Linked DNA regions of Homo sapiens: regions 2, 3, 4, 5, 6 and 7 are each reported to be linked to region 1. Evidence: microRNA targets listed by miRTarBase, many of them from high-throughput screens and not tested one by one. Region 1 holds a microRNA gene; each other region holds the end of a gene's coding sequence.

Region 1 (4,098 bases):
GTTTTCGCTCCAGAAGGCAGAGCGTGAGCAAGCTAAATATAGCTAGGTATTAGGTCAGTATGATGAAAAATGTAATGATGGAGCTTTACAAAAACTGAATGGGCTAGCTAAAAACATAGCGACTCCTGTACTAGCAGTTCAGTAAAGTCTGCAGGGCAACACGCCAGCTACACTAAATGAGGTCTGCCTAGGAAGCAGTGGAAAAAAAATTTTGTGAACTCCTAAGGGTTATTCCTTTAAACTCTAAGATGCTATGGCTGGACTTTTTTTAGAGTAATTATATTTGTCTATTTCATGTTATGGTAGGAATTTGCCCTAAGGAAGTAGAACTAGTTTAGCTCAGAATGGCAATATTTCTTCTAAAACTTATTAGGAAACTAGAAGGAACGCTTTGTGGATGTAGTTTTCCTAAAGGTCATGCAGAACTTCCAGGTATTACAGATTTTGAAAGATGAATAATAGCCATTTTAGTGGTTATCTTTTTTTTTTTTTAATAGATGGAGTTGTCCAGGCTGGAGGGCAGTGGCATGATCTTGGCTTACTGCAACCTCCGCCTCCTGGGTTCAAGTGATTCTCCTGCTTCAGCCTCCTGAGTAGCTGGGATTACAGGCCCCTGCACCACACCCAGCTAATTTTTGTATTTTTAGTAGAGACGGGATTTCGCCATCTTGGCCAGGCTACTCTTGATCTCCTGACCTCAGGTGATCCACCCGCCTTGGCCTCCCAAAGAGCTGGGATTACAAGCATGAGCCGTCGTGCCCAGCTCATATCATTCTCAAAGGACTTTTGTAGCACACAGAATGGTTTCTAAATAATATTATCCATATCTTGACTAACACGGTGAAACCCCATCTCTACTAAAAATCCAAAAAATTAGCCGGGCGCGGTGGCGGGCGCCTGTAATCCCAGCTACTCAGGAGGCTGAGGCAGGAGAACGGCGAGAACCCGGGGGGCGGAGCTTGCAGTGAGCCGAGATAGCGCCACTGCAGTCCGGCCTGGGCGAAAGAGCGAGTACTCCGTCTCAAAAAATAATAATAATAATAATATCATCCATAATATTAGTTGATAGTCTCTTCATAATTCTAAATCCAGCATTTTTCAAAGCATTACCAATGAAGGAGAACTTTTAAGATGAAGCTAAATATAAAAAAAAAGTGAATTACTGCAAATTACTATACATAGTATAATTTGAAATTTTGGTAATATTGTCTAAGACAAATCATCCTTTTGGGATAGTTTTTTTCCATACTGTTCAAACTACCCTTCATCCTATAACGGCAGACATGGCCTAATGATTCTCATTTTTAATCAACAGTGTTGTCAGACATTTCAATGATTCTGAACATAATGTTATGACATTCAGGGCCAGAGAGCAAGCATTCTCTACTTGCTCTCAGCTGAAAGCAAAGAGGTTCTCAAGAGCTGCCAGCCTTTCTCCTTTATGCTCTGAAAGCCTCCTAAACTTGTCAGTTTACTTCCATTACCCTTTTATTGAAAACAATGAAAGAAAAAAAGTTACTACGGTGTTTATACTTTTAAAGTGAATGTCTTTTGTAATAAGGTAGAAATATCACAGAACCATCGAATGTTGGAATCAGAAGCATGTTTGGCATATCATCAAGTACAATAGCCACATCCTGCCTATGTGGAAAGCTGGAGGGGCTAAAGGACCTCTCAAAGCTACACATGTAGAGTCAGCAGCAGAGCAGAGCTTAAAGCAGCAAGTGACTCTTACGGCCATCAGTAATCACACTCTTGCTTAACATGCAAATGAATAAAGCTATTTTTATAAAATCCCTCCCCCCCCCATATATTGGCAGTAACTCTAAATTCTAGTCATTTTTTAACCATTACAGAATAAGATTAGAAGCATCAGTAGTTAATGGTGATAATAATTTCCATTTTATATGGGGTTTTATGGTTCACAAATATATTTTATAAAATAAGTTTCTAACATTTCATTTTCTTATATTGAGGGCTTTTAAAAGAAATAACCAAAACCTATTTTATTAAAATTTGATATTTAAAATTATAGTTGAGAATAGTGGAAGATTTTTCCCATTATCTTTGCTCTCCTGGATAGCAACCAGATAAATGACTTCCCAGAGAAATGCATAGAGTCATATAAGATAAAACGTCTTTTTTTCTCCATTTTACTCAGAGTTTGATGATGAACTATGACTGGATATTGAAATAATCATTCTTTTATCCTTTGTAGTAAGGCTTACTTTGTCCAGTGGCAACATGATCAGACAAGCAGCTCTCAGATGACATGTGACAATATTAAATTCAATCTTAGCAAGCAGCTTCTCAATTTCACACTTGTGGTAGCTGGATTAACCCAATTATTTTTTGGAGGTTAAGGGAAACTTTCACATTTGCAGAATACCATCCTTCAGAAACCGGAATGTAGGATTTTGTTATCTCAAAGAATTTTATGGAGATGGAAAGATCAGTTAGTATTAAATTTTAGCACACAATCAGATGAAGGGTTTAGGAAGAAGTAGATATGATTACCTAATAATTCACTTTGAGTTCTTCACTTTGAGCCTCAAAAATGTGTGAAACTTGGGACTTTTACTAAGCATATCTTTCAGGCAAAATATTTTCATTGTACCAGTTCCAAGCTCTTGGTTCTAACACAAAACCCCTGCTACACATACACACACATGCACTCACACACACACAGGCTACCTATATATACACCTGCTATGTGTGTGGATATGTATTTACACATACACATATCAGGTGTATACATACGTAGCATGTATATATACACATACACACACACGCACACAGGCACACACATACTTGTTACCTATATATGTATACATGCACATATCAGGTGTATGTAAATGTAACATGTATATGTACACACACGCACACAGGCACACACATACTTGTTACCTATATATGTATACATGCACATATCAGGTGTATGTAAATGTAACATGTATATGTACACACACGCACACAGGCACACACATACTTGTTACATATATAATTACACATGCACATATCAGGTGTATGTAAATGTAACATTTATATATACACACGCGCACACAGGCACACACATACTTGCTACATATATATACAGTCAGGTGCTGCATGATGACATTTTGCTCAAGAACAAATCACATACATGAGGGTGGTTCCATAGATTATAGTGGAGCTGAAAAACTCTAGTGGCATTGTTCTCATTGTGACATTAGTGCAATTACTTAATTTTTAAAACAAATTTAGTGTAACCTAAGTGTACAGTGTTTATAAAGCCTACAGTAATGCATAGTAACGTCTTAGGCCTTCACATTTGCTCACTGCTCATTCACAGATCCACCCAGAGCAACTTCTACTCCCACAAGTTCCATGAAAAGTGCCCTATACAGGGGTGGCAATTTTTTTTAATCTTTTATATCATATTTCGCTGTACCTTTTCTGTGTTTAGATATGTTTAGATATACAAATACCACTGCATTGTAATTGCCTACAGTGTTCAGTACAATAACATGCTATGCAGGTTTGTAGCTTAGAAGTAATAAGCTATACGACATAACCTAGTTGTTTAGGAGGCTACACAATGTGTTTGTGTTATGTGCACTCTATGATGTTCTCTCAACAATGAAGTCACCTAATGATGCATTTCTCAGAAAGCATCTCCATTATTAAATGGCACATGAACGTATTTGCTACATATATACATACTGGCTATAAACACACACACACACACACACACACTCACACACACCTGCTACAGTCCTTTCAAAGTATAAAAAAAGATACCAAAATGTGTTAGAGATTCGTTTGTAAAATGTAACTATTTTCGGACCAGATGGATTCACAGCCGAATTCTACCAGAGGTACAAGGAGGAACTGGTACCATTCCTTCTGAAACTATTCCAATCAATAGAAAAAGAGGGAAACCTCCCTAACTCATTTTATGAGGCCAGCATCATCCTGATACCAAAGCCAGGCAGAGACACAACCAAAAAAGAGAATTTTAGACCAATATCCTTGATGAACATTGATGCAAAAATCCTCAATAAAATACTGGCAACCCGAATCCAGCAGCACATCAAAAAGCTTATCCACCATGATCAA
Region 2 (4,098 bases), not on the chromosome of region 1:
TAAATTTCTGTTGTTCAAGCTACCCAGTATTTGGTACTTGGTTATGGCAGCCCCAGCAAACTAATACATTAGGGTTTTTGTTTGTTTGTTTGTTTTTTAAGAAATTGAGGTACAGAGTTGGGTGTGAAGATTTCTGGGGATCAGTGTTGGAAAATCCTATAAGAACACGAGGAAAGGCCAGGCGTGGTGGCTCAAACCTGTAATCCCAGCACTTTGGGAGGCTGTGGTGGATGGATCACTTGAGGTCAGGAGTTCAAGCCCAGCTTAGCCAACATGGCGAAAACCCACCTTTATGAAAAATACAAAAATTAGGTGGGCATGGTGGCACATGCCTGTAATCCCAGCTACTTGGGAGGCTGAGGCTGGAAAATCTCTTGAGCCTGGGAGGCAGAGGATGCAGTGAGCCAAGATCATGCCACTGTCCTCCAGTTTGGGTGACAGAGCGAGACTCAGTCTCAAAAAAAAAAAAAAGAAAGTGAGGAAGGCAGAATTGAGCAGAGTGAGAAGCTGCATTCAGTGAGGTTGCAACCAACGTAGAGTTTTGGAGCTGGGATGCCCTGCCGTTCAGCACTGTTCCAAATTGAGGCAAGGGACCTTTGTTTTCCTACATCAGTCATTCTCAAGGTGAAGGGAGTGTGATTTTGCTCCCAAGGAGGTGTTTGGCTGTCACACTGGGAAGCAGGGGTGATGAGTGCCCACTGCAGCATTCATTAGAGGCCAGAGATGCTGTTTAGCATCTACAATACACAAGACAACCCTGCCCCACAACAAAGAACCATCCAGCTCAAATGTCCATAGTGCTGAGATTGAGAAACTCTGCCTACATCAAGGAGCCACTGGCCACGGGCTGCTCTTGCAAGGGTATGCCCTTGGGCAGATCCCAGCAGCTTAGGGCAATTCCCAGTGTGGCGTGTGGCTGTGAGCAGTCAGCAGCTCATGTTCCCAACAGATTGGAAATGGGTGTGTTTGCCATGGAGAGAGGATCTCAGCAGAGCAGAGTCACTCTCTGGCCCCTCAGACTGCTCTTTCTTATGTTATAAAAATAATGACCTACCATATTTAGGACCTGATATAGTTTGGATATTTGCTTTGCTCAAATCTCAGTGTTGAAATGTAATCCCCCATGTTGGAGGTGGGCCTTGGCAGGAGGTGATTGGATAATGGGGATGGATTTCTCATGAATGGTTTAGCACCGTCCTGTTGATGCTGTCCTCATGATAGTGAGCTCCCATGAGAGCAGGTTGTTTAAAAGTGTGTGGCAAAAAATATAAAAAATAAAAATAAAAAAGCATATAATAGGCCAGGCGCGGTGACTCACGCCTATAATCCCAGCACTTTGGGAGGCTGAGGCAGGCGGATTGCCCGAGCTCAGGAATTCAAGACCAGCCTGGGCAACATGGCAAAACACTGTTTCTACTAGAAATACAAAAAATTAGCTAAGCATGGTGGCACATGCTTGTAGTCCCTGCTACTCGGAGGCTGAGGCACCAGAACCTAGGAGGGGGAGGTTGCAGTGAGCCGAGATCGTGCCACTGCACTCCAGCCTGGGCGACAGAGCAATATTATCTAAATATATATATATATATATATTTAAATATATATATTCAAATGTATATATTTAAATATATATATTCTTTCTATATATAGATAGATATAGATCTCTATCTATAGAGAGAAACAAAAATAAAATAAATAGAAGTCTGTGGCACCTGCCTCAGTCTCTCTTGCTCCTGCTCTAGCCACGTAAGACATGTCTGCTTCTCCTTCGCCTTCTGCCATGATTGAAAGTTTCCTGAGACCTTCCCAGAAGTCAAATAGCTGTCAGCGCCTTGTTTCCTGTACAGCCTACAGGACTCTGAGCCAATAAAACCTCTTTTCTTTATAAATTACCCTGTCTCAAGTATTTCGTTATAGCAATGCAAGAATGACCTAATACAAGACTCTATCCTGTAGGCTTTACATATATTATCTCGTGTAAGCCTCATAAAAATCCCAAGAGGTAGTTTTCATCGCCCCATTTTATAGTATGGGAATCTGAGACTTAGAGAAGGTTAATCACTCACCTAAGATTACTGAGCTTGTCAGTTACAGGACCAGAATTTGAATCCAGGACTGTCAGCCTTCAATCTCTGGCTTTTTTGCAAATAGGAGGGACAACATTTGCTAAAACAAGAGCAACACTCATAGGAGAAGGAGGAGGATGAACTACAAGCTTAGCCTGGAATGAACATAGAGCCCAGGCTCAGAGCAGCACAAAGCCCTGAAACAATGTCTGATACTGTGCGAACATTCTAAGGCCAGACCTGAGCTCAGGATTCCTGGAGAGAAGCCTCCTGCCACCTTCCTATCCACAAATATTAATGGGTTATGAAAAATAAGCCCTCTCACCAGGAGGACTTTTCTTTTTTCCCTCCTCAAGGAGAATATATGGACCTTTAGACTTTATATGGTGACAGTAATTATAAAAAAGGGGAAAAAAAACCACTTTCTGGTAGTCAATTGTATAAAAATAATTTTATTTACTACTGTAAATAAAGTAGTGCAAAGAGTAGTTTGGACCCACAATATTGCATTACTGATTTATTCACTACCTTAGCAGCATGTAGTATACAGACATTCTGCTCTTCCTCTTCCTCTCTAACACACACACACACACACACACACACATATCCCTGTACAGACTCACGCAGGCATGAGGGGTAGGGATGAAACTATAAGCTAGAGGCTTACTTGCTGCATATTCCGTTGCTGCCAGTCTATTCTAACGTGTAATTCATGGAGAAGACTACAGTTAAGTACTAAGAATCTTCTAAATGTAATTTCATGGATTGCAATTGAAATGTAAAAGATATCCGACAATGCCATTAAATGATTCGGAAGCACTAGGACCCTAGAAAAATTCAAGGAGAAAAATGTAAACCAATTTACAAAGCTATTGCCCTCCCTGCATTTCCAGGCACAAACAATTTATTTCAAGGTGCCTTATAACTGCTAGGTCTTGGAAGTCAAAGAGAAATCTATCAATTCAGCTTTGAGGAACAGGGCTGTGGCAAGCACAGGTACCAAAATATTATCCACCTTGTAGAGTAGTCATAATTTTCTGTTCTTCAATAAAGGGATGAAGCACGCACTGTGATTCTTAAGACACATCTTAGTGTATAAGAATCCAGATCTGCCGTAGGGCATGCTATGACTCCTAATACATACAATCACTAGAACAAAAGTCTGTGATGGCCCAGTAAACTTCCCCACATGCCCTATGATCAAGATGTTCCTTGTATGTGTTTGATGACCTTTGGTATTACCACTGCCTGATCTGGGTACTTCCTTGTAATTTGACTTTAAAAAAAATGACACCAATTGCAAAATTTGCATCCAGTTGACAAGACATTTAAGGTGTTTATCAGGATCATGCCCTGGCCCCAGCTTCCCAATACCAGCTGTTGAAAAGATTCTCTCTCATCTGGAGAGAACTGGAGTGCACAGTTCACCCACGTGGCTCCGGGTTATTAGTTACTGTGGGCTGGTCTTGGTCAGAGGCATCTGCAGCTGGAGTCACAGCTGGACTTGCAGTGGACGTGGCAGTGTCTGGGGAGGCCTGGGATGGTCTTGGAGGGGGATCGCTTGCTGCAGAGACACATGCACAACAGGTGCTGAATACTCAAAACAGTGCATTCAGAATGTACAACCACACCTAGAGACTCTGGCAAGCCAGGAGAGATGCATCTAGTCTAATGAACCTGACACTAACTAGCCAGGCAACTCTGGACCCGTTATCTAAGTTTAAGAAGATGCCACCACATGCTGACAATCTGATTTCTAAATAAAAACCCTTCAAGAGTTTCACCTCCAAGTGCCGATGCTCATTCCTAAGGGGACATTCTAGGAAGTTTAAGAATGGGTCCCCAAACTTCTGGCTTTTCTGGATATATGCGGGAATTCTTCGGGCCCCTTCCAGTACCTACAGAAGAGGTCGTGGATTCCAACACTCTTCTGAAAGAATAGGAGAGTGATGGGGAGGGGCAGGATGTTGTAGAATGATGTACCCTTTCTAAGGTCATTAAAGCCACTACTCTGGCAGGTGATCTAGTGATTAGA
Region 3 (4,000 bases), not on the chromosome of region 1:
CTTATCTTACAAACAACCCTTAATATTTTAAAAGCTGCAGAAAAAACAAATACATGAATAAATGAATAAACAAAAAACACATAGGGAAAGGGTATGAGCTCTTGCTGCAAGGAGTAGATGAAAGACTGATAAATGAAGCTGAGGTCCCCCCAGTGCTTCCCTTTCAATAGTTTATGCTAAAAATATTTGTTTTTTAAAACTCTGCGCTTTCTTCATTTTTATTGGAACGCAATTTGTGAACCACAACTGAGTCTGTATGCAGGATCTCCAGAACGCAAATCAGAAAAAAATTTGAGATTTTATTCAGATTTTTCTATTAGATTGAGCCACTAATGTTCGGTAAGGGGCACTTGATGGTTAAAAAACACAACTGGCATGATAAAACTACACTAAATAATATCTACTTTATTTGAACAGTCATATCAAGAATGGCCCTAAATTTAATCAAGGACTAAATTTAATGAAAGACTCTGACATTAAAGACTCTGGATTGTTTGAAGGTATTTTGCCTGCAGGTGAGACTGGTTTTGAGGGCACAGAAACGTAGCCTGAATGAACCATTCAGAACTCATCATGCATCCAACTGAACACGTTTCATGCTTACTCAATTTTTTTTTTTTAAATGCAACAGGCTCAGTTTTCTCACATTGGTGCATCTCTTCATGCTAGAACTGCTTATGTCTACAGAGTCCCTGAAGAAGCAAAAATCCTTTTTTTAGCATTAAACATAGCATATGGAGTTCTTCCTCAGCTCTTGGCCTATCGTTGTATCTACAAACCAGAGTTCTTCATAAAAACAAAGGCAGAAGAAAAAGTGGAATAAAAATATTACTTCATGTTCCTCCTTTCTAAATTACTAACTTTTGTTATACTGGTACTGATATTTTGTCCCATTTCACTCTCTTCTCATACGTGAGTACTTAAGAATATGTACATTCTTGCTCTGCACTGTATGTGTGAGCTATATGGTATTGTGTAAATTTTTTTTGAAGGAAAATGGAAATTCTTGAGAAACAGTTTGTTTAAAGAAATATATTCAAAATCATTTGTGAATAAACTTGATCATCCATCTCAATATTGTTTGACATATAAAATAATTATAAGTGTAAAAAATTACAATTTAGTGCCAACAGTAGTGAGCATGAAATGAAACTATTCAAAAGAGAATATGGCCTGTGCATATTAAAAAATTCAAAACAGTGAATGCAGACTGGAGGAGTAACTTTTGCAAATAAGATGAATATGCTTCATTATTAAACTCAATATAAAAGGCAAATCATCAGAATATTTTTAAATGTTGTTTGAAAAATGTTTTCCCAAGGAAAGTTTATTATTTGCTGCTGTTTCAAGAAAATTACTTTTACTAAATTTTTTTGTGTGAATTTAAACAGCTAAATAGGGATCAGTAACTTTATCTCTATCCTTAATGAACATTTGTTTTATTGGTGGCTGGAAATATTTCTATTGTATTTCTGTGTATATTTTTAATAAAATTATTTTTGGCCTCTTATAAAGACAAATCTTATTAAATTTGAAACATTTCATATATACACATAAAACGCTTTTAAAGAAAATTTGTGAGTTGTATATTCCAATTCAAAATGCCATCTACATTCCCCTTATGTTTCAGTGTGAGCAATGAAGAGGTCTTTTGATGAATTAAATTTCATTAATTAAAAAATACATTCAAATATTCAAAATTAAAAAGGACCTTTTAAGGAAGAAGTATTAGATCGACATCCCTACTATCTTTTTATGAACTTTTCATGTTTGGGATTGTATGTTGAGTATACTAGAGAAAATCAGTATTCACTAAATGAAAGAAACACACCAAAAATACAAACAGCCACCTCCTCACTGTGCCCTGGAATGATAAATGGACTGGTGCTTTCATACCCTTAGCTGCCATCATCACCATCATCATTATTAACGGCCCTAGGCTTTTAGGTCTGCTCACATTTTCTCATGTTTTTATTAGCTCTCATCAAGAAAACCAAAAGAAAATGGGATACAAATCAATGCATGGATAATATCAAATTACAAAATCTAGGGTCCACTGGGCTGGTAAATATGTAAGTGTAAGCAAATCATGTAGTCATCTCCCCATCATCCCCTACAGTGTTTTCAAATAATCTAAAACCCAGAGAGTGTTTAAAAAAAAAAAAAGAAAGAAAAAGAAAAACCCTCACCTGCACTTGATTCTATTGTCAGCTTGCTGTGAACAATTTTTGCTTTAATATATGAATTACATTAATACCTCACGTTACATATATGAAGCCAAATTACACTAACTTAGTTTGCTTACAACCTCAAATCTTACTCCCAGTACACATTCCAATAAATTTATTCTGTAAAAACAATACATTTTTTTGTTTTTGATTTTTTTACAGTAAACTTTTCAACTACAAACCGTGAATACGCGAAAGATGTTCCAAGGACAAGCATTAACAGGATTGATAAAACCCAAACTGACTAAATGTGTTCTCACAATATAAGCTGGCATAAAAATAAATAAAATTCTCTATTATCACAATAGCAACAATAATGTACACATAATAATGGTTTAAGGATGAATATTAACTATTCTAATTGTAGTTCCAAAAGAAAACAGTTTATTTTAAAAGTCTACATTTAAAAGTCAATGCTTTGTCTGGTTTCCCATAGGGCTGTTGCTGATTCCAGCTTTAAAATGTAAAGTATCCACCTTGAGTGCTTAGCTCAAAATTGTATTGGCACTGGGAAAAAAATAAATCATTGCCTTTATTTTGGAGTAACACAAAAAGACTCACTAACTTCACATATAGAAACTTAGTTTGTGTACATAACAATATGAATTTTGAGAAGTATAAGCTGTCAACTAGCTATTTCTAATACGGAATAGATATTTTACAATATGGTTAAACTTTACACATGGCCTCAAAACTGAAGGACAATTTTAATTTCGTCTTCAATATACCAACGTTATGTATTTAGGAATTAATTCCTGGGTTCTGTCACAGAGAGGAAATTCCATTCTTAAGCATTATGTTGAGTGGTCATCTAAAAAATGTTAATTTATATTTAACTGAGTGTTTGATGATGGTGGGGTCAAGGCAGGAAAACGATGATCATAACTGCCTTGATAAAAGGATCCTAGACATGTATAAGTCTGCGCAAAAATCTTGATAATCCTTAGTGGTTAAGGGCAACTTCATGCAACCAAATAACATGAAATTAAATCAGTAACTTTTAAAAAAGGCTAAAATGTCTTTTCCCCCCGAAACACAACAGAGAGGAATATGAATAATGTACATACAAACTGGGGTTCTGTCAATGACAACAAGGACTATGTGTTGGTTCATATCAAATCCAAGAATATTAGACAACCAAACATATAACCTTCTTGTGGTTTCTCTTAATATGCAGCATTCATTATGGTAGTTAGGTCTGTAAAAAAAAAAAAAAGAAAGAAAACAAGCCTTTAGATGATTTAGGATACTAACAATGAGAGCTATCCACACCTAGATAGTACATAATTGGGTTTTCTGAAATTTTAATATGCACTGCAGCATTAACAATACTTACTGAGCAAGAGCAGCTTCTGTGGCTTTGCTTTAGACCTGTCAGTGCAAAAAGTTAAAGGAAATCCTAGGGTATTTTTAGTGTCCCATAGAAAAAAATTATAAACCTTGTCTACTGTCTGTTAGGACAGAGTGCAGCAGTGCACATTCTACAATTCTAGGACTATGTTTATTGCTGGAATACATCATCAGTGGAGAAATTGATATAATCTATCTTTGTGAGGACATTCTTCAGAAAGAAAGGTAAGCTGTGTAAAATTTAAAAAGCACTTAGAGTGTGCACCAATTAATCTTCAGAATATTTATAACTTAATTACTTGTGACACATAGCTCAAACAAATGTAGAAGTTAATCATGATGTACAAAGTCTCTGACTTCTTGCTTTTAAAAAAAACATAAAGAATAAGAGGAAGCCTAGATTTCTTTTAAAATTTAGATGG
Region 4 (4,098 bases), not on the chromosome of region 1:
GAGGAGGAGAGTTGTGACAATGCTCATGGAGATGCAAATCAGCCTGCCCGTGACAGCCAGCCTAGGGTCCTGCCCTCAGAACAAGAGAGCACCAAGAAGCCCTACCGGATAGAAAGTGATGAGGAAGAGGACTTTGAAAATGTAGGCAAAGTGGGGAGCCCATTGGACTATAGCTTAGTGGACTTACCTTCAACCAATGGACAGAGCCCTGGCAAAGCCATTGAGAACTTGATTGGCAAGCCTACTGAGAAGTCTCAGACCCCCAAGGACAACAGCACAGCCAGTGCAAGCCTAGCCTCCAATGGGACAAGTGGTGGGCAGGAGGCAGGAGCACCAGAAGAGGAGGAAGATGAGCTTTTGAGAGTGACTGACCTTGTTGATTATGTCTGTAACAGTGAACAGTTATAAGACTTTTTTTCCATTTTTGTGCTAATTTATTCCACGGTAGCTCTCACACCAGCGGGCCAGTTATTAAAAGCTGTTTAATTTTTCCTAGAAAACTCCACTACAGAATGACTTTTAGAAGAAAAATTTCAACAAATCCTGAAGTCTTTCTGTGAAGTGACCAGTTCTGAACTTTGAAGATAAATAATTGCTGTAAATTCCTTTTGATTTTCTTTTTCCAGGTTCATGGTCCTTGGTAATTTCATTCATGGAAAAAAATCTTATTATAATAACAACAAAGATTTGTATATTTTTGACTTTATATTTCCTGAGCTCTCCTGACTTTGTGAAAAAGGGTGGATGAAAATGCATTCCGAATCTGTGAGGGCCCAAAACAGAATTTAGGGGTGGGTGAAAGCACTTGTGCTTTAGCTTTTTCATATTAAATATATATTATATTTAAACATTCATGGCATAGATGATGATTTACAGACAATTTAAAAGTTCAAGTCTGTACTGTTACAGTTTGAGAATTGTAGATAACATCATACATAAGTCATTTAGTAACAGCCTTTGTGAAATGAACTTGTTTACTATTGGAGATAACCACACTTAATAAAGAAGAGACAGTGAAAGTACCATCATAATTAACCTAAATTTTTGTTATAGCAGAGTTTCTTGTTTAAAAAAAAATAAAATCATCTGAAAAGCATTTGTACAGTAAAATGTATAATGAAGCTTTGCCAACCAGACTGTGCTAGCAACAAATTTTTTTAAATAAGCTTTATGCAGTGGTAATAAGGTGGCCTCAAATATATTGTGTCTGATGGAGAGTTATTAGTGAAATGAATGTGGTCTTTCTTAAGGCCTGGGTGGACTGTAAACTTTGCCAATAGTATAACTCTTGTCTTCTGGCCACTTGATGTTTAAATATCTGAAATATCATTTTGAAAAAAATACATCTATATATAACATACATGAAGAGATGCTAAGCTGACAGTGATATTTTAGCACATTTGAAGACTGGGAAGAGATTTTCAGGTGAATTTTAACTGGTCTATTCTTGCCCTTAGTATCTACTTCAAATTGAAGTCTACAAACAAAGCAGTTCCTTTGGGAGGTTTTTAGTTTGAGTTTTAGCGTGTGTGTGTGTTTGTGTGTGTGCGTGTGCGTGTGTGTGTGTGTTGGAATTTCCTATCTGCCTGGATATATTAGCAGAGTTTGAATGTAGTTTTGGCCTTTGGCCATTAGACTTCTATTAAAATTCATTAATAGTCATACAACCAACATAGAGTTGAATGAGAACTGCCGATGTAATTAATAGGCATGACATCCATTTCAAACATCTCAACACTTTAAAGAAAAGCCCTTTGTTTCAAGAAAAAAGGGTTTGTAACTAACTAAATACCTAACATGTAATTGACACTAAAATATGAACTTTGTCTTATTTAGTTTCTGTTATAGCTGTAAAATTTCAGGCAGAGCCATAACATTGTACAGAGTGTAGCACTTGTGATTAAACCTAGCCTGTTAAATCCTGAAACCTTCAACCATTACTTCTGTGAATACTTTAGCCCTGGGATTTGGGTTTTTCTGTTCCGGTGTTGTGTCTGTTGCCGGCAATGGACACACCATATCTGCTGCTGGCCCAAGGAACGTCATTAATTTTTCTTTCCAAATTAAGTATTATGTGCTAGTCAGTGTATAGTAAAGCACTTCTCTTTTTTATTACTAAAAAGCTGGCATTAGATTTGCATTATAAATACCTCTCTAGGAACTTTATACTCCTTTTCCTTCTTCAACAGGTATTGCCCTTAAATCTTATCTTTTGGCCTTGAAAGTTTATAGCTATTGTTTTTCAGTTGTTCGTTGTTTTGTTTTGTTTCACTTTAGTTCTGTAGTACCTGCCCATTAATATTTTTGCTTTGATTCTAGCAATGTGTATGTATCTGTATAAAAAATAAAATAATGAAAGCAACCTAAAAATAGGATGCACCAATAGCATGTGGTTCCAAGTAAGTTGTGATTTTTATTTTGAGACAGTGTTCCACTGGAAGGGAGGGAAGGGCTTACATTCACAGACAGTAAAGCAGGGCTGTGTAAGGAGCTACATTTACTTAACAGTCTCCTTTCCAGCTAGGTTTGTTTTATTTATTTGCAAGTCAGCTAAGAATTAACCTTTTAAACCATCTAAAACAGGCAAGCAATATAAAGATTTCTACTAGTGCAAGGTAAGTGGTTTGAATATACAAGTGCCCTTTCCTGCCACCCAGTCTCACTACCGTTTTAGTCCTGCAGCTGGGTAAAGCCACTATTGTGTGGAAACTCTCCCATGTGCCCTGTCTCTACCTCTGGACACACCAGCTCCTTCTTCCACCTATTCTATTCCTCAGTTAAGCCAAGTGATCAGAAGTAGTATTAAATGGGTAGATAATTTTAACAGGATGCCTAATGTGAAATAAGGAGTTATTTTTACTCTTCTACTATAGAAAGCCTAAGGTAATTCTTACCATCTCAAAGACTGAGTATTCCATTTAGGTTTGGAGACCACTTGTGCTGTGCTGCCTGATATTTACCAAACTTGAATAAGTGTTCGTCAACTTGATAGTGAATGTACCCCTTCTCACCTTATATTTTGATTAAATCAATTAACTATAGGTCATCTACCAAGAATGTAATCCAAGCGGTTGATAAAACATTATTAGGCAGATAGATTATTGATTATTAAATTTTGAGCAGTGCAAAAACGGTTTTGCTGCTTGGAGTTCAGATTCAGTCCCTCAAAGAGTTTATGATCACTGAAATACACTCTGAAGGTATTCTGAAGAAGTTAAAAAATTTTAGAAAACGAAATGTTCTGTATACAAAGACAATACAGTCACTACGAACTGCAGAAAGTATAGGAAAGCAGTAATTGATGTAGAGTTTAGACAGTCTTGGATCTTTTTTAGAGCACTAACCATGGATTTAGACTCAAAATAGCTGCTACATAATAGAGCCCTTTAATAATTTAAACCCCCCTTGTTGAAATACAAGTTGGACTCCCAGTGTCAAACTCTAGACTGTAGCTAATGTATTAAAGGGAGATGTAGATTAATATTCAGTATATTTAGTTTGCAATTTCTGAAAAGGTTTGAAAACTAGTCAGCTTTTCACACAGCAGAAGCTTTGAACTGAAATATGTGTGAAAAGGACGCAGACTGAAAACGTTTTGGTTTTGTACATCAGTGCTGATGAAATTAGTGTAAAACATTTTCCATCATTGGCACATTACTGCAAAATGATGGCAGAGATATTTTCAAGAATGTACATCAAGTTATATTTCCTTGACATCCTTTTTTCAATTGGTCAAGGTTACAGATTCAGAGGATAAAGGGTAGTTTCATTTAGAATAAATTCATGTCTACTGGCAATCTATATATAAAAGTGACCTGCCCAAGAACCAAAAACTTTAAATGCTAATGAAGCTTTTGAAAAATAATTTTTAAACAAATTAATTTTAAAAGGGTGTTACACGTACCCAGTTTTTACTTTTTAGTTGATGAAACCCATCCTATAATATACATTTGAGCAAAGTACACATATTAAGAAAAACATGGACATTTACTTGTTTAATAGTCAAAATGATGAGGAAATGTTAGCTGTTTTTAAGTGGGACTGGTGGGGTGTCCTTTGTCACAAGGAATGCTTTTTTAGCTTGTTTGTGGGCATAAG
Region 5 (4,000 bases), not on the chromosome of region 1:
TGGCTACCCTGCCTTCTTTTCTAATACACATTTAAGGCATTCATAACTTGTTTAATCCTTTAACTGTATCCCACAATGATTGGCTGTAGGCTGGGCAAAAAGTTTACCTATTTAGGATCCTTAGTGAATGTTTGTTGAATAAATGGAAGCATTCATTGGTGACAGGATTAATTTCAAACAGAGTAGAGTGTCATCTATTATTTTAGTGACCTACTTGGGTTGATGATGCCTCTAAACTTACTTTTCCTCCAAAGTATTGTCCTTGTGAACTTCCTTGAAGATGGCAGCATGTCTGTGACCGGAATTATGGGACATGCTGTGCAGACTGTTGAAACTATGAATGAAGGGGACCATAGAGTGAGGGAGAAGCTGATGCATTTGTTCACGTCTGGAGACTGCAAAGCATACAGCCCAGAGGATCTGGAAGAGAGAAAGAACAGCCTAAAGAAATGGCTTGAGAAGAACCACATCCCCATCACTGAACAGGGAGACGCTCCAAGGACTCTCTGTGTGGCTGGGGTCCTGACTATAGACCCACCATATGGTCCAGAAAATTGCAGCAGCTCTAATGAGATTATTCTGTCGCGTGTTCAGGATCTTATTGAAGGACATCTTACAGCTTCCCAATGAGAGGCCAGGAAGTGTGAACATACTGATAGAAAAAGACTATATTTTATCCCTCATAAAATGTTTTAAATGTAAATGTACATGACTGTGTGTGTGTATGTGTGTGTGTGTATAATTCTTTGTTGTTTTGGTAAAATCAGAGGAGTGGGTTATAAGTGCTAATTTCCTTGGGAAATTAATGAACTAGGGCAAGTATAGCATCCCATGCATAAAATTAGCACAGGGACATCAGAATTGTATGGGTCTTCTTTTTTCTTTTTTTCTTTTTTTTTTGAGATGGAGTCTCGCTCTGTTGCCAGGTTTGAGTGCAGTGGCGCAATCTCAGCTCAGTGCAACCTCCGCCTCCCAGGTTCAACCGATTCCCCTGCCTCAGCCTCTCGAGTAGCTGGGACTACAGGTGCACGCCACCACTCCCAGCTAATTTTTTGTATTTTAGTAGAGATGGGGTTTCACCTGTATGGGTCTTTTCTTGTGATGGGGTTACACCCCCATTTTTGTTAGGCAAGAAAAGCATTTGGAAAAAAATGTAACATGTTAGATTCAATATAAAATATTATGGTAAGATCATGGTCTTGTTAAGTCTCTTCACTAACTGTATGTGTCTGTTTTTAAAAGATGTGTCTTGGTGGGGCGCGGTGGCTCACGCCTGTAATCCCAGCACTTTGGGAGGCCGAGGCAGGTGGATCATGAGGTCAGGAGATCGAGACCATCCTGGCTAACACGGTGAAACCCCTTCTCTACTAAAAATACAAAAAAAATTAGCCGGGCGTGGTGGCAGGTGCCTGTAGTCCCAGCTACTCAGGAGGCTGAGGCAGGAGAATGGCATGAACCCGGGAGGCAGAGCTTGCAGTGAGCCGAGATCGCGCCACTGCACTCTAGCCTGGGTGACAGAGCGAGACTCCGTCTCAAAAAAAAAAAAAAAAATTATTGGAACACAGCATTACCTATTGAATTACAGTTTTCTGGTTTTTTTGTGGAGTTTTTGTTTTGGTTTTTGAGATGGAGTTTCACTCTTGTTCCCCAGGCTGGAGTGTAATAGTGCAATCTCGGCTTACCACAACCTCTGCCTCCCAGGTTCAAGCAATTCTCCTGCCTCAGCCTCCTGAGTAGCTGGTATTACAGGCATGCACCATCACGCCCCACTAATTTTGTATTTTTTTAGTAGAGACGGGGTTTTTCCATGTTGGTCAGGCTGGTCTCAAACTCCCGACCTCAGGTGATCCGCCCGCCTCGGCCTCCCAAAGTTCTGGGATTACAGGTGTGAGCCACCGTGCCCGGCTGTTTTTTGTGGGTTTTTTGTTTGTTTGTTTGTTTTTGAGACAGAGTCTTGCTCTGTCACTCAGGCTGGAGTGCAGTGGCACAATCTCGGCTCACTGCAACCTCTGCCTCCTGAGTTCAAGCCATTCTCCTGCCTCAGCCCCCTCAGTAGCTGGGATTACCAGGCACATAGCACCATGCCCAGCTAATGTTTGTATTTTTAGTAGAGACAGGGTTTCACCATGTTGACCAGGCTGGTCTTGAACTCCTGACCTCATGATCTGCCTGCCGTGGCCTCCCAAAGTGCTGGGATTATAGGCATGAGAGCCTCCGTGCCTGGCTTTTTTTTTTTTTTTTTTTTTTTAAAAGAGGGTCTTGATATGTTGCCCAGGCTTGTCTTCAACTCCTGGGTTCAAGTGATCCTTCCACCTTGGCCTCCCAAAGTGCTGGGAATATAGGTGTGAGCTGCCATGTCCAGCTGTAAGAAATATTTTAAAATATTTAAGCTTCAGGGCCTTTGAATACAGGCCCTGATAACATAGCTATTTTCCTGCATAGTTGTCTAATAACAAGATGGTATAGCCCAGTGCTTCTTGCACTTTAGCAAGCATCAGAATCAGCAAATATTTAGGTTTCAGGGCCTTTGAATACAGTCTGATAACACAGCTATTTTCCTGCATAGTTGTCTAATAACAAGATGGTATAGTCCAGTGCTTCCTGCATGTTGGCAAGCATCAGAATCAGCTGCAGGGCTTTTCAAAACAGATTGCTGGACCCTCCTCCCAACAGATTCTGATTCAGTAGTTCTAGTTGGGACCCAGGAATTTGCATTTCCAACAGACTCCCAGATAATGATGTTACCGTTCCCAGACCACACTTGCAGAAGCAGTTCAGAAACTTCAGGGGAACAGAAAGTTCCTCCCTCACGGCTTCAAAGTTCCATGATCCTGAAAGCAAAATTTAGCACACATCACCTTTCTCCTAGTGGCTAAGACTCTCCTGTTCAAACCCTGGATGTCTTCAGAAAGCAAATAGAAGGGGAATATGAACAGACTGAAGTCAGCAAGGAAATGACTGACAAGATGAGGGAGGCCTTTGAAAAGGAAGAAGCCAGCTGGGCGCGGTGGCTCACGCCTGTAATCCCAGCACTTTGGGAGGCCTAGGCGGGCCGATCACTTGAGGCCAGGATTTGTGACCAACCTGGGCAACATGGTGAAACCCTGTCTCTACTAAAAAAAAAAAAAATAGCTGGGTGTGGTGGTGAGCGCCTATAATCTCAGCTACTCAGGAGGCTGAGGCACTCGCTTGAATCTGGGAGGTGGAGGTTGCAGTGAGCCGAGATTGTACGCATTCCAGCTTGGGCAGCAGAACGAGACTCTGTCTCAAAAAAAAAAAAAAAGCCACGTAGGAAATTATCCACAGCATCAATTGGACTTGATCTTGGCTCAGGGACCAGGCCCGGTGCCTTGATATTGGTAGATTTATTTGCCATCAGACTAATGAGCTGGGGACATTGACTGTTTCCTGGCAACTGAGTCCTCTGATTGTGTAAACAATTTGCCTGCAAACAAAACCTGAGTGCTTGAAAGGGTAAGTGATCCTGATCTGCCATAGAAACCTTCATGCTTAGGGAGTTTCCCTAGCTAATTCCTCAGCTAAGATTCTCCCCAGGAGTTTCACTCACCTGTTTCCAGTGCCTCCTTTGGGCTGTCAGCATCTGTGATTCCACATTCCCCAGAGGGAGATTCCTCCCCAAAGCTGGTTGTATTTACTGCCAGTCCTGGGCTGTAGCCAGGGCAGTCTTTGAACACATTATCAAGAATACTTTTTAAAATAAAAGTCTGTTTCGACTTCCACTGTGTATTTTTTGTCTCCTTGGAAGCAAAGTTTCCACTGTTTGCACTGATTTCTCACCATCCCCTTTTCATCTGATTTCCTAAGTCCACTTTTTTCTTCTAAAGATACTGAAGTTGATTTTTCCATGCACTTAGTTTTTTTTAAGTGACATTTAAAACATTCAATCAATTGTTTTAATTTGCTGAGAATTGATGAAAATTTCACAATCCTTTTTTTTTTTTTTTATAAGAGTCAAGGTCTTGCTCTGTCACCCAGGCTG
Region 6 (4,098 bases), not on the chromosome of region 1:
AAAACTCTACCATCCTTAAAATGTCTCCCTCATCCTCTTGATTGAGAAAGGCTGATCCTCACCACGTCCATGTTCTAGCTAGGGGAAAGGGAGAGAAAGAGGAAGGCAGAGGGCATATGCTTCTTTCCCAGAGCATGACCAAGAGGTTACACATATCACTTCCCTTTACATCTCATTAGCCAGAACTTTGTCTCATGGCCTCACCTAGCTGCAAGGGAAGCTGAGAAATGCAGTCTTTTTTCTGGGTGGCTATATGCCCTGCTAAAATAAGGGGGAAAATAGATATAGGGTCAATTAGCAATCTGCCACATGGAGTTGTTCTACCTGGGGTCTTTACCTTGAGCATTTGGAACTCTGCAGACTGATGTTCTTGGATGGGAATAGGATGACTCCATTGTGTTTCTCTGTTGCAGATGAACCCGAATGGCCCAGCCTGGTGCTGGTGGATGTTAGCAGTTCTTCCCTTGGAAAGCCGAGCTCAGCTCCCCTTCCTAGCAATGAGGTCCTTAAAGGACAGACTGAATGGTATTCGACGAGTCCTGGCCTTCATATCCCGAAACCAAAACTAGTGAGTGGATTGCCGAAGAGGAGCTCCCACCTTCCCCACTGCCGTCGGGGGGAGTCTTCTTGTAAATATATCTAATTGCAATAATATCTTAACAGAAGGGGGTGTCAAACAGAGGCATCAGCCTGCTGTTGATCACAGAGAGAAATTGAGTAGAAAGACCAAAAGAATGTGACCTATTTGAAACTTTCTGTCTTAAGATGCTTCTTGACATGCTGCATAACTACATAAACAGCAGAGGTGTTTAAGAGCCCAGAAAAACATAATTTGATTTTAACATTAAAATTTCCAAAAGTTTAAAGTGGTTTTGCTTTAATATTCTTTCTTTCATAGATCAATGACTGTGTGGTTGAAATGTGAAAACAAAGATACTAATAATGTTGCTGTATAATTTCACTGACTTGAGGTCTCATTCCAAATGGTTCAGGTTTTATAGAGCATTGTGTAAAATAATGTTCATACTTCTTTCTGTTTTAATAATTTATTTTTTGCACTACTGTATCCTTTTTTCTACATGTATGTTTGTAACTATTTAAGCGTACATTGCTGAAAAGTCCATTGCTTTATTTATTGATGTGGTTTACCATGTACCTAGGGGGAAATAACAATACTAGAAGTGTGCAGTTTTTGCTTTTATCTTTTTTTTACTACAATGACACTAGTTCTTAGACCATTTCCGTATCTATCCAAATGGATGCTTAAAAGAAGTTCAGAATGATGCTAAGATCATCTGTCTTCAGAGTCCACTTTTTTTTTTCAGTTTGAACTAAACAATATAAAATACTTAAGGGATTTGGCCTAGATTATGGTATATGCCAAGGTAAAGTAAAATAATTCATTTTCTGTGTGTAATACAGAACAAAGCTGAAAGAATTATTTTTATTATAGGCATTTACTTCAGCAATCTAATTGTACGTGTATCTAATTTTTCCCCAGTGCAGTTAGGAATCGGATTTTGGGCAGGATCATAATTAACTCTTCAGAGGAAATGGTGTTCAGTTTAGCACATCACAGTCATGCCCAACTAGCCTCCATAACCCACCTCTCCCCGGGGTTCTGAGGATCAAGACCTGGACAGAAACACTTGATAAGGACTTTTTATTATTAAAATGTAAATAAGACAAATAGAGTAGAACCCTATAAAAATCTTTTTAAAGGAACCAGATGGCCGGGCACGGTGGCTCACGCCTGTAATCCCAGCACTTTGGGAGGCCGAGGCAGGCGGATCACTTGAGGTCAGGAGTTCGAGAGCAGCCTAACTAACATGATGAAACCCTGTCTCTACTAAAAATGGATACAAAATTAGCCAGGCTTGGTGGTGTATGCCTGTAATCCCAGCTACTTGGGAGGCTGAGGCAGGAGAATCACATGAACCTGGGAGATGGAGGTTGCAGTGAGCCGAGATTGCACCACTGCACTCCAGCCTGGGCAACGAGCAAACCTGCGTCTCAAAAAAAAAAAAAAAAAAAAAAAAAGGGAACCAGATAATCTATTATTTTACCTAAGTACTGCCTTTGCTTCTAGTTGCATGGGTGAAATATTTCAATGTATGGGGAGAATATAGGGTGAGGAGTAAGAGTAAGCCCTGATTTAGCTTGCTTAGTGCTAGTTTGAGTCCTTCAGTGGCAGGACAGCCTGTAAAGTACCACAAGTATGGGAGTGTTATAATGGCAGAGTGAAACGATTAGAGCAGGGAGGAAGTGAATTGTGCCATTAGTACCTTCATGCAAATTATACCATGTGATTTTGGACAGTGAATGATTTTTGCATCATTCATTCACAGCCCATCACTCTGTTAAGGTGAGAGTGTAATTCTTACTTCTCCCATCACCACCTGTAGCTAGAAACAGGAAAGGGAGAATGAGATGATCCAGACAACATAAAAAAGATGCATGTAAGCAGAAACCAGATGGTCTTTTCTGCACTCACTTAATGGACATTATGTTGCCAGAGTGTTGTGTTTATCAGATTTGATGTTTGGAGCTAGTCTGGGCAGGTGAAGAACAGAAATAGGCGGAAGTATAGGCATTATTTCTGCGCAAGCAAACTCCACAAAGCTCAGGGAGCAGAAAAGACTCCCCCTCCCACCTGGTTCCCAGACCATGTGGTCATAACACAATCCTAATAGTTTCTGGTTATCTAGTGTAAATGCAACAAAGAAAAAGGCCCTAAGCTTCTCTACTTATTAGATATATTATTTTTGGCAATTGATTTAACTTTTGCCAACCCTCAGTTTTCTAATCTATGAAATGATAGTGATAAGTTCTGCATATAGGGTTGTTACGAAAATTAAATGAGATAATGTGTAAATCAATTAGCACAGTGTCTCACACCTAGAATGCACTCAAGAAATAATAGCTACTATTAGATTAGTCATAGTTATAGAATATCATCAAGGGCCTACATTTGTATAAAACACTGCCTTTACACACAATATCCACTTGAAACCCCTTTAAACTTAGTTGGGGGAATACATACCACTGATTTTTGGACCCATAATTTGATGATTTACAGATAATTCTTTTGGGAATTAAATGTGTGTGAAAGTGAAATAACTGGAGAACAAATGAGGGTCAGAGATAGGGATCAATCCTATACCAGAAATTTTTTTCCTGCTTCAATAAGGGCTAGAAGGTAGTGCCCTATGTAGGTCTAGGATTTCTTTCTTCCTTCCTTCCTTCCTTTCTTTTTCTTTTGTTCCCTCCCTCCCTCCCTCTCTCTCTCTTTCCCTCCCTTCCTTCCTTCCTTTCTTTTTCCTTTCCTTTCCTTTCCTTTCTTTCTTTTGTGTGTGTGTGTGTGTGTGCGAGTCTGAGTCTCACTCTGTCACCCAGGCTGGAGTGCAGTGGCTCGATCTCAGTTCACTGCAACCTCCGCCTCCCAGGTTCAAGTGATTCCCTTGTCTCAGCCCCCCAAGTAGCTGGGATTACAGGCACGCACCACCACGCCTGGCTAATTTTTGTAGTTTTAGTAGAGATGGGGTTTCACCATGTTGGTCAAGCTAGTCTCGAACTCCTGACCTCAGGTGATCCATCTGCCTGGGCCTCCCAAAGTGCTGGGATTACGGGCGTGGGTGTGAGCCACCGCACCCAGCCTAGGATTTCTGATAGAATGGAAGCCTTAAGTTCTAGCTCCATTAGAATAACCAACTTTTCACTCCCTGTTCTCCAAAATGTATTGAGAACCTTACCCATCCCAGATGATGAGAGTTTACAATCTGTGACTTCTGTTCTTAGTTGATAGTATTTCTTTATGTTGCCCAAAGTAACAGATTCAACAAAAAATGTACTGAGATCCCCATGTACCAGGTACTGAGCCAAGTGATCTCACATACCTGAGCTCATTACATCATTTATTTCTCATACCAACCCTGCGAGAGCAGTTATTATCCCCATATTATGAATGAGAAAACTGAGCCTCCACTATGTTAAATATTTTGTCTAGTTGCAAGGCAGGATGCAAGGCTAAGCTTTGGCTTTCTTTGGGATGTACCTTAACGAGGTAATCAATTGGTCTTGAACATTTTTACACTGGGA
Region 7 (4,098 bases), not on the chromosome of region 1:
TCTTTAAATAATTTAATTGATAATCTTTATGAGTCTACTACATAAAAAGTTAACTTCTAAAGTTATGTCAAAAGAAAAATATATACTTTAAAAATTACTTTCATATGTGCTAAGTGCAGAAAATTTGGAAAACCATAAAGCATAAAAGAAAAAAACCAGCCTGGGTGTGGTGGCTCACACCTCCCAGTGCTCTGGGAGGCCAAGGCAGAAGGATTCCTTAGACCAGAAGTTCGAAACCAGCTTTGGCAACATAGCAAGACCCCATCTTTACAAGAAGAAAAAAGAAAAAAATCATCCATAATCTTACTACCCAGAGAGTCTTCATATTTGAGTGTCTTTTCTTCTGACTTTTTTCCTATGGATTTGTTTATATATGTATGCAAGCATTGGAAATAAGGCCATTTCTCTTGTAAATCAAATATGTAGATAAGTTGCTGTCAAAGCAGCTATAAATCATGACTGTGGTTTCTAGTCATGCAGCACAGATGCCATGGAAATGGTTGAGAGAAACATTCTTCTTTGTGGCACATGGGTCAGACCGAAAATGTCCAGCTGTAAGCTGCGCTCATCCACCTTGAGCATGCTAACCATTGGCTTTTTTTCTGTCAACAGCAAACCCGCTGGTTCAGAACCAACACCTAAGTCACGCATTGCAGACCTTCCTCCTGCCAACCCTGATCACATCGGTGGATACAGACTCGCCACAGCCACGTTTGCAGGCATCGAAAACAAATTTGGCCTTTATCTCCCGAAATTTAAGTCTCCTAGTGTTGCTGTGGTTCAGCCAAAGGCAGCAGTGGCAGCCACTCAGTGATGAGACAACTGTTGAGTGTGGCAAAATGGCGCCTTGAAGAAAGAGGCCTAGGAGAGCAGCCCTGTAATGTATCCAGTCAGCTGCATGGTACTGACTGAGCTGAGGAGTCAAACTCTTCTTTCTGTATGACATATACATATACTTGTTTATAAAATAATCATTTGCCCAGGGAAAAAACCACAACGCTGTTTCAAGCTTTAGTCTTATGTGTTGAAATGTTTTTGTAAGCCTTGGCATGAATTAGTGTTCTAGACTCTGCTTTGCACAGCTTGCACTTACAGTGATTGTACATATTGTACATCTTTGTACAGAGACATCTTGGCACCTCATCCCAACAAATCACATTTGTAGAAATGTAATGCGGTTCTGAGTGGCTTGAAATGTACAGAATGTTTTGAAAGTGTTTTATTAAGAATCACACAAAAATAAATGTATTAAAATTAAATTCATTCTCTTATTGGTGACTTATGGAAATAAAGCATCAATATTGGATGTATTTAATTCCTAGTTTGTTTTCCATTCTGGAATAAAAAGGTATTTGCTGATAAAAGGCATAACGAGACATAGTGCTGCTACCACTGAATAAGTGATACTTTGGAAAGATGCATGCCAGTGGATGCCAGAGGACCAGGCTAATGACTTGTGTGTGCTGATGTGTTTCCATTTGTATTTAATGTGTGTAGACCCTCCTCTGTTCATCAATCAAAAAGCATTTCCTAGGCAGCTCCTCGCCTGTCAGTGTGCATATGGAAACAGGGACATCTCCATCATTACTGGCTTAGTTTTGCTTTCCTTTGACACAGTAAGGCAAAGGCCAAGCTTTCAAAAGAGTAAAGGATACTTTCACAATTTCCCTTCATATGGATATGATTCCAGTCAAAAATAAAATGCACACCAAAATGTATACATGTAGTTGGATTTTTCTTTGTAAATATACTGATAATACTTTTTGTTCTGATTGACTACTGATTGCAAATAACTCATGATCGGGTTCGCCCTTTCTTCCACCTTTATAGAAAACAGAAAAATTAGTTTTAGAAAGGGCTAGCGCAGAGTGAAGGGAGGGAAGAAGAAAGAGAAGAAAAGCTCTATATGGTGATTTAGTGGGGTCTAGGTTCTTACTTTGGAATCCAAATGCAAACTGTTCTAAAAGTCACTCATCAAGGGCGTGATTACTAATTTGGATCTAAACATAGATCTTGACAGCCACATCTACACTTTGATATGGATGTGATTTGATGTGCAGTATCAGAATTTATTTACCTTACCAAAGTGCTCTGGGAAGACATTATTGCTACTGCCAGTAAGCTGGGATATGAGAATGTATGCAAATATTTTCAAGAGGCGAGCCTGGAGACAGACCAAGTTACTTAGTATCCTGCACAGTGCTCCTCGATTGATGGCTGACAGCCCTGTGACTGCAACTGTAGGCTCCCTGGAGGCCCTCCAGGAACAAAAGAATTAGCTTTGAAAGCAAGTTATTTTCAAATGTATTAGATTGGTCTCATGGGAGTGGAACAAATAATAATACAGTTGTTTTGCTACTACCACTTGTTAGAAATATATAAGTAGTCCATGGATATGTGATTACAAAAGAATCCTATGTATGTATCTAGAGTGAGATGGGAAAGTGTCCCGCTTACCCTCCTTCTACCTCCACCACTTCCTGGCCCAGAGGTAATCACTGCTAACAGGTTACAGCATGAATATGTAGTCTGTTTTTCATAACTCTATAGAAATATATGTACATATTTATATTTTAGAAACAGGATTATGTTATGTGTGTGTTATTCTGTGTCTTGCTTTTGTTCACTTAATGTGTTTTGGATATCTTTCCATGTCAGTTTATAAAGTTTTATTTTTAATGGCTGCATAGTATTTCATTGTATGGGTTATAATACTTTTCATAAATCTTCCCTTATTGATATTTATTCATTTTTTTCACTACTGCAAACAATGCTGTAGTGAATGGCAGACATCTTTGTACACATATCTTTAGTGCATGTGAATTTCATTAGGATAGATATTTGGAATTGCAATTGAAAACTTTTAAGACAAGCTTTATGTTTTTATACATATTGCCACATTGTTCTTCAAAAAGAGTTATTAATTTACTTTCCTTTGACAGCATATGAGAATGCCTATTTCTTTGCAACCTCAGCAAAGAGGGATATTATCAGTCTTTTACATTTTCAGCAAATCATGATAGCTGATCATGGTTATTTTATTTTTCTAATTACTAGTGAGATTGAATGTCTTTTCATATTTACTGGTCATTTGTATATTTTCTTATTGTGGAATATGGACAAAGTACATGAAACATATGTATGCATGTCCACAACAGATATGTACACACATACATATATATTTTTTAACATATCATAATGTGCATACCATATGACCACCGGGTCAAGAAATAGAACATCTCCAGTACCTCAAAAGCTCCATATATGTCCCTCCCTAACACAACCCTCTGTCCACTTTAACATCATCCCTACTCTTTGCTTTGCTTTTCTTCATAGTTTTACCACCCATGTATATGTCTCTAAAGACCATATTTAGTTTCTATTTTTGGAATTTATATGAATCAAATTATACTGTACACTTTTGAGACTGGTTTCTTTTGCTAAGCATTATGAGATTCATCCTTATCATTGTATGTAGCCATAGTGTGTTTATTCCATTGTATGAATGTATTACATTACATATACTTTTTTCATTTTACTCTTGATGGACAATTTGGATTTTTTCCACTTTGGGGATATTTCAAACAGTGCTTCTATGGATATTTTGAACATGTCTTCTGGAGTTTGCATCTTTAAAAGGACATATACATAAGAGTGGAACCTAGATCATGCCAACTGTTTCCCGAAGATTCTCATACTGATTTACATTCTTCCCAGGGTGTATTGGCTTTTCCCCAGCCCCCCAGTCTGGTAGATGTATAATGGTATCATATTGTAGTTTAAATGACCATTTTCCTTATATGGAAAAAAAATATGAAAGGTGTTCATGAGGCTGATCACATTTCATATATTTTTTGACCATTTGGATTTCATCTTTGGTGAATGAAGTGTGTTAAAGTTCTCCCATTTTTCTCATGAATTTGCAGGTGGTTCTTTATATATTCTGGCTACTACTCCTTTATGAGTTGTGTTGCAGAATCTTTTCCCACTTTGTGGTTTGTCTTTTCACAATGTTTATAAATATAGTAACATTTTAATTTTAATATCTTCAAATAATAGTTTTCCTTTATGGTTAGCTCGGTTTTTTTTATGGTTATG

Evidence for each region. Region 1 holds the annotated microRNA hsa-miR-4789-3p (CACACAUAGCAGGUGUAUAUA, at 2,698-2,718, opposite strand). A microRNA usually pairs through its seed, bases 2 to 8, with sites in the 3' UTR of a target mRNA and lowers its output. Matches are read on the target gene's strand: a 7mer-m8 pairs with bases 2 to 8, a 7mer-A1 pairs with bases 2 to 7 and ends in A, and an 8mer does both.
Region 2: the mRNA of SEL1L3 is a reported target of hsa-miR-4789-3p. Seed matches in the 3' UTR shown: 7mer-m8 at 2,663-2,669.
Region 3: the mRNA of HDGFL3 is a reported target of hsa-miR-4789-3p. Seed matches in the 3' UTR shown: 7mer-A1 at 2,906-2,912, 8mer at 2,548-2,555, 7mer-A1 at 2,327-2,333, 8mer at 1,549-1,556 and 7mer-m8 at 77-83.
Region 4: the mRNA of RSF1 is a reported target of hsa-miR-4789-3p. Seed matches in the 3' UTR shown: 7mer-A1 at 2,322-2,328 and 7mer-m8 at 3,564-3,570.
Region 5: the mRNA of GEMIN6 is a reported target of hsa-miR-4789-3p. Seed matches in the 3' UTR shown: 7mer-m8 at 724-730 and 7mer-m8 at 1,223-1,229.
Region 6: miRTarBase lists LONRF3 as a target of hsa-miR-4789-3p. The part of its 3' UTR that is shown has no 7-base or 8-base seed match.
Region 7: miRTarBase lists SLC25A12 as a target of hsa-miR-4789-3p. Seed matches in the 3' UTR shown: 7mer-m8 at 1,019-1,025 and 7mer-m8 at 2,592-2,598.

The regions. Positions count from the first base shown.
Region 1 is chr3:175,368,210-175,372,307 of GRCh38, reverse strand. MIR4789 (microRNA 4789) reads right to left here and starts at 2,768; the gene lies at 2,687-2,768. All of the region lies in intron 5 of NAALADL2 (N-acetylated alpha-linked acidic dipeptidase like 2), which reads right to left.
Region 2 is chr4:25,744,938-25,749,035 of GRCh38, forward strand. SEL1L3 (SEL1L family member 3) reads right to left here. Exons shown (of 24, transcript NM_015187.5): 24 at 2,496-3,627. The coding sequence ends at 3,488. Among named protein-coding and RNA genes, the nearest start is that of SLC34A2, 91 kb to the left of the region's middle.
Region 3 is chr15:83,135,850-83,139,849 of GRCh38, forward strand. It overlaps HDGFL3 (HDGF like 3), which reads right to left. Exons shown (of 6, transcript NM_016073.4): 6 at 1-3,426. The coding sequence ends at 3,421. It overlaps TM6SF1 (transmembrane 6 superfamily member 1), which reads left to right. Exons shown (of 10, transcript NM_023003.5): 10 at 632-1,559. The coding sequence ends at 823. Among named protein-coding and RNA genes, the nearest start is that of TM6SF1, 30 kb to the left of the region's middle.
Region 4 is chr11:77,663,227-77,667,324 of GRCh38, reverse strand. RSF1 (remodeling and spacing factor 1) reads left to right here. Exons shown (of 16, transcript NM_016578.4): 16 at 1-4,098. The coding sequence ends at 408. Among named protein-coding and RNA genes, the nearest start is that of CLNS1A, 27 kb to the right of the region's middle.
Region 5 is chr2:38,781,263-38,785,262 of GRCh38, forward strand. It overlaps GEMIN6 (gem nuclear organelle associated protein 6), which reads left to right. Exons shown (of 3, transcript NM_024775.10): 3 at 255-3,740. The coding sequence ends at 630. Among named protein-coding and RNA genes, the nearest start is that of GEMIN6, 5.1 kb to the left of the region's middle.
Region 6 is chrX:119,017,122-119,021,219 of GRCh38, forward strand. It overlaps LONRF3 (LON peptidase N-terminal domain and ring finger 3), which reads left to right. Exons shown (of 11, transcript NM_001031855.3): 11 at 414-1,234. The coding sequence ends at 569. Among named protein-coding and RNA genes, the nearest start is that of LONRF3, 45 kb to the left of the region's middle.
Region 7 is chr2:171,781,990-171,786,087 of GRCh38, reverse strand. SLC25A12 (solute carrier family 25 member 12) reads left to right here. Exons shown (of 18, transcript NM_003705.5): 18 at 613-2,683. The coding sequence ends at 814. Among named protein-coding and RNA genes, the nearest start is that of DYNC1I2, 97 kb to the right of the region's middle.